Linked DNA regions of Homo sapiens: region 1 is linked to region 2. Evidence: fine-mapped expression QTL. A gene starts in region 2. The other region holds a variant in brackets. All regions are shown on one strand. Distances are from middle to middle. Region 1 has its middle 2.1 kb from the start of TMEM266. Region 2 holds the start of NRG4 (neuregulin 4).

Region 1 (2,925 bases), 46 kb after region 2:
GACAACAAGAGCGAAACTCCGTCTCAAAAATAAATAAATAAATAAATAAAAATAAAATTAAATTAAAAAATAAAAAACGACTTAGATATTGTATGTACTCAAATTTAAAATAAATACCACACAAAGTCACATATATTCCATTTTTCAGGCTTTTACCAACTCAGATTGGCTTTCTACCTGTACATTCCAAATAAGTGAGGTTATATTATAACATTTAGAAGAGCTTTCAAAATATTAACATTTATATCACATTAACAATTTAAGGACTTTGGGCATTATTCAAATTTTCACAAATCACATGGCATCAGATTCACTTGTTCTATTTTCACAAGCAACTATCTCAAGAGAACAAAAGCTTTAACTCTGCTACCAATCTTTTTCAGACATTCACAGGATCAACATCATCTCTAATCTATCCTCCCATAATCTTGCAGCTACATACATGTACAAATTTTCCATTTATGTGATCCTGGTACTCTTGAAAAGGCAGTCTTTTTAACTAAAAGAAAATCTGACTTACCTCAAAAGGTATCTTGGTATGAGAGAGAATGCCAACTACAGCCACGTTAGAAACGAACAGTTATGTCTGGCAAGGAAGTGATATACCAAGCTTAAACCCACAGTTCCACTTCTGCTTTACAGCTCTTATACTTTCCTGTTGCTACTAAGCTCCTTTACTCACAAAATTCCTCTCATTAGTCACCTGCAGTGTACTGAAGCAGCACCTGTACTATTTATAGCTCTAGGATTCCCCCACCCTCTCCTGTCAATAAGAATCACCTGGGGCAGTTAAAAAAAAAATCACAAGTCAACCCCCTGATATTAGATTTCAAGGTGTTTGAAAGGAGGCTCCAGAATCCGATTTTTTTTTCTAATCAGCTGAATTTATGACTCACAGAATCTGATTTTAAGCAAGTGTTCCCAAGTGAGTCTTATAAGCCAGTTAAGTTCAAGAATAATGCTCCAAGTGAAAGTGAGATCTGTGGCAGATCTTCACAGTTCCTCTAGCCTCATCAGCCTCAAGGGCTAATCCTCCTCCGGTGTTAGGCCTCAGGGTATTTGAAAACAAGAGAAGGCCCAGTTTGAAGAATGCAGAATGGCATCTCGTCCACACTTAAGTTTTCAATACCCTAAAAAATTTATCGAAGGGAGATTTTAGTTTGGGGAGGTGCTGTGAAGTAAGACATCACCAGGGGGCAGCATAGAGTTGACAAATTATACATGTTTTGGGATTTTTGACTTCACACTACAACATGAAATGGTTGCACCTACAATTTCCATTAACTCGGATTACTCAGAAAAGGACAAAACCCAGAACACTTAAGACACACGTAAAC[T/G]TTATTAGCATGTAATTTTCAATACAATGGCTATTATATTATAAATACATAATATAAATATTTATAAATATAAATATTTTCTACAATGGCTATTATACTATAAATAGCCATTGTAGAAAAAAATGTTCCCTTGAAGTCGCATGAACCCGAATTCAAAAAAATTTTATTAGGATACAAAGATTCCTGGTAGAAATTTGAAGTGGTCTTCAAATTTCTCTCAGCAAGTTTCAAAATACTTGTCGTACTCTGAGAGTTAATTAGCGTTATAACTGGATGCTTCTCAATAGTTTCAATCAAATCTTAAGTAGAGTTCTACTAAGGTGGAAAATGGAGTGGATAACAATCTGGGCAAGCTATGCCAAAGCTTTTTCTAAAGAAAGTGTACCTAGTTAAAATGCTGTCACTGACTGTCAGAAAACTATAGCTCCCCTCCCGTGCATCCTCCATTAATTTTTCTTAACCCATCTCCACTTTCTCTATTCTAGTCCACATTTCTTCCGTCTAGAAATGTAGAAAAATCCTTTGGCAACCCAGGTAGCTTCCACAAGTATCATCTCCAAGTGTTTCTTCCTCTGAAATTCCACCATTAGAGATTAGAGATGAGTAGGAAATGCTGAAAGGCGAAGGAGGATCTGAAGAAATTTTACATTTTTTTCTCAGTTTGCCAAAAGTAGATACTCCCTGTATAGATATTCCCGTATAATCCAGGGAAGGTAGTCCAAGACCGTGGGGCAATTCCAAGAGGTGGTTTTGAAGTCCTTCAACTCTACCATTTTCATTTTATCCATACTAAAAAAGCTACGGCAGGAAGAAAAGACAAAGGACATTCCTGGGAGGCCAACTGGACCTAATCAAATAAAAACACTTTAGAAGAGGTACAAGAATCAGAAATCAAACCTATCTGCAGAGCCAAAAGCCATTCTGAAACTCCGTGTCCTAGAAACAAGGGTTTCCCATCTTTTCAAATATTTTAAGATAAAAATCGCAACACCCTATAGGAAAATGGCTATATTTTTAGCAAGAATTGGTGGAGAAGACAAACGATAATAAGCTACTATGAATCCAGAAGCTGCTTAAATGGCCGTATTCACAGCAGCCCTTGCAAACATTAATTAGAGTAGTACCCATTATGGGTGAGGACTTTTTTTTTAACCACAGAGAATATCTGTGGGTGCATCCAGATTGCTCAGTGGTTCCGTTTAACCCACCCGGTAACTGGCAATCATGGCCCTAGGACAGGCTTCTCCACCGGGGCGATGCTGCCTCCAAGGGGCGCAATGTTACTTTTTATGCATCAAGCACGGATAACACATACAGCACATAAGCAGGTCGACAGTGTATCTGCGGTACTGGGATTTCACGGGGAAAGGAGATGGGGACGTGTAAAAAGCCTTTTTAAGAGTCAGATAACGAAAAACGGAAAAAGAGGAGAAACACGGTCCTACAAGGGTCCTGAGCTGAGGCCATCAAATGAATGTACTGACAGGTATTTTTCTCCCAGGCAGCCAACTGAGAGTCAAGGCACTCTGACCGTGCTATGACTCCGGCCACACAGAAAGAGGTGTTTTCCCCTCGGTGGCCTCCAAGC
Region 2 (2,925 bases):
TTTTTCAGGAATAATTTGGCTAAAAAATAAAATTAACATTACATCAGCATCAAAGGCGTCATCATATATGGTTTTCCACTGAGGGTGGAATGTAACTTTATCACAGCTAAGATTAGTGTCCTTGTTTTAATTGGATTATAGTCAGACATATCTCAACACTTGGCATTTATTTTATCAATAAAGAAAACTCATCTAACCTGAATCATTATTTCTGAATCTACTTTTATTCTGACTTCTATTTCCTTATTATTTGAGCTGATTTCAGATATAGGACAAGCTAGAATTTATCAGGTTATAAAACCAATAAAACACATATATCTAAAATAAAATAGCTTTATGTCACAAAGGAAGGTCTCTCAAAACCAAATATTTCATATTTGAAATATTAATTTCATATTCACATCTCTTCCAATGATGTTGGAAGGGAATAATACAGCCTTGTGTTAATATACATTTTTGATTGTTGTTCTATTGCTATGGACACATATTGACAAAAACATATAAATATATAAGAAATTACCTGTTGGCATCTTAATTTGTAAATAGTTTCATTCTTGGTCAAGAGAGTAGGGTTGAAAAACAGTACCTAAAACGGTTTAAAAAGTAATAATTCAGGGAAAATAGTCTTCTTTTAAGGGCATTATAAAATGTCAAATATTCTAATAGCAATATTCTTAAATGTTGAAAATAAAATAATAAAGACATTTATATACTAGGGACAAATTTTAGTTACAGCATTTTTAGATACCTATTGCATTTCAGTAAAAAATATGAACAAAACTAAAAGATCAATAACGTACTTAATATAAATCATTGCCTAAATAATGTAATTTAATCTTAAATATCTCTCTGCAGAAAAGTCTAATAAGGCTTTTTTTCGTAAACATTGTTAACATAGTAGAGTACTACATGGAATTTTACATGAACGATGAGACAGTAAGTAAAACTGAATGAACTGAACCTTTAAAACTTTTATAAAAGCACTTTTAAGTTTACCATAGATTGCACATTACATTTACCAACCTATGCAAACCTTTCTTCTAAAAAATGTCCAGGGCTGATAGGTGCGGCAAACCACCATGGCACACATGTTATAAACACACTATGTAACAAACCTGCACGTCCTGCACATCTATCCCGGAACTTAAAATTAAATTTAAAAAAGAAAAAAAATGTTAACCCCACACACACACAAAAATGTCTGGCATCTGGCAAAGCAATGTAGCTAATAAGACATTCTTACATATGAAGTTTCCTGCTATAACAGAAACAAAAGAATTCAAACATATATTTGAAGAGGTGAAGCATTTATACTTACATTATGATTACAAGCTCCCAGTTCTGTTCTATAAAGAACACTTCTGACCTAAACAGAAAGACTCTAACAGAAATCTCAATCTACTAACACAGTTGTAATACCAAGGTCTTCTCTCAAAGCCAACAGCTCTTTCTTAGACAAGCAGAGAGGCAGAGAAAGCGAGCAAGCAATCGAGAGAAACACACACGAGCGAGAACAGGCAGGAAGGAGAACATTAAATCTATTTGATTTTTAAAAAGCACTGACTCATACTGTTTCTTTTTTCCAAACAAACAGGACTTACCCTCAATAAAAACTTACATTCACACAAAAAATAAATTTTGTTGGACATGCAGTGTTTCAAAAGTTTTTGAATACCGCAGACAACAGCAGCTGTGACTTGCATTTTATAACATGTCAAAAATCTGATTTATATGGCTGCAGTGTGCAGTGTGGGCGAGGTCACGCCAGACCAAGGTGTGCACAGAGGTCAGGCACTGGCCACGGGAGCCACCCCTTCAATTTACGTGTTCAGAGTTGCAAATGGAGCAGAATTTTATTTAGAAAAGGAGTTGAACTAAGCTGCACTTCCAAATTACTGTCCACGTTTTAAAGGTAAAAACCAAACCACATTCCTTAGACTCCTTACTTATCTTTGCTTGTCTGAATAATTCAAGACGTAGTGTAAGTTTGGGAGAAAAGAAATTTTAATGTGGAGCTAATAGATAAGTGTTTCACAAATTAAAAAAACATTTTTTTAAATTTATGTTTTATGAGGTTTGTGTTACCTTACAAGCCAGATAAAATTTATATAAATAATGACCTGAAGAACTTATAAAGCTAAAAGAAGGTAATAGCTATAATAAAACTTGTAACACCAAGTTCAATTTGAAATGAATAAAATCACTGAACTTGACTAATACCAATGACAGTGTAATGCCTGAATGCTATGGCAAAGTTGTTAAATATACAGTGAGGAAAGTTAAGTTTTAAAAATCATAAACAATTTTAAAATATTGACTAAAACTGTAATTTTGTTTAAATGAATATAGAGTTCTTCATCATATAATTATCTAAAATATGCCAAACATTTAGATGGTTATCTTTTCTAAAACGACAATTCAGACATTATTACTTGACTGATGTAAAGCCCAAACTAATAAGTTTGTTTTGTTGTTTTAAGAAAATATTAAAATAAACTCAAAATCAAATACTCTAAAAACAATCTGTTCATTAGGAGAATGGTGTGAACCCGGGAGGCGGAGCTTGCAGTGAGCTGAGATTGCACCACTGCACTCCAGCCTGGGCAACAGAGTGAGACTCCGTCTCAAAAAAAAAAAAATGTTCATTATTACATTTTTAAAATTATACTTTAAGTTCTGGGATACATGTGCAGAATATGCAGGTTTGTTACATAGGTATACAAGTGCCATGCTGGTTTCCTGCACCCACCAACCTGTCATTTACATTAGGTATTTCTCCTAATGTTATCCCTCCCTTAGCCCCCCACCCCGACAGGCCCTAGTGTGTGATGTTCTCCTCCCTGTGTCCATGTATTCTCATTGTTCAATTTCCACCTATGAGAACATGCGGTGTTTGGTTTTCTGTTCTTGTGTTAGTTTGCTGAG

What was found. PIP is the estimated chance that this variant, and not a neighbour inherited with it, causes the effect.
Region 1: its variant is fine-mapped to the expression of NRG4 in lung (GTEx, PIP 0.97).

Annotation. Positions count from the first base shown.
Region 1 is chr15:76,056,434-76,059,358 of GRCh38, forward strand. It overlaps a transcript of NRG4 not described here. Among named protein-coding and RNA genes, the nearest start is that of TMEM266, 2.1 kb to the right of the region's middle. RefSeq lists enhancers at 662-711, 772-821, 1,012-1,061 and a silencer at 2,545-2,594. The variant T/G (reference allele first, on the strand shown) is at 1,338.
Region 2 is chr15:76,010,701-76,013,625 of GRCh38, forward strand. It overlaps NRG4 (neuregulin 4), which reads right to left and starts at 1,724. Exons shown (of 6, transcript NM_138573.4): 1 at 1,619-1,724; 2 at 521-586. The coding sequence starts at 530.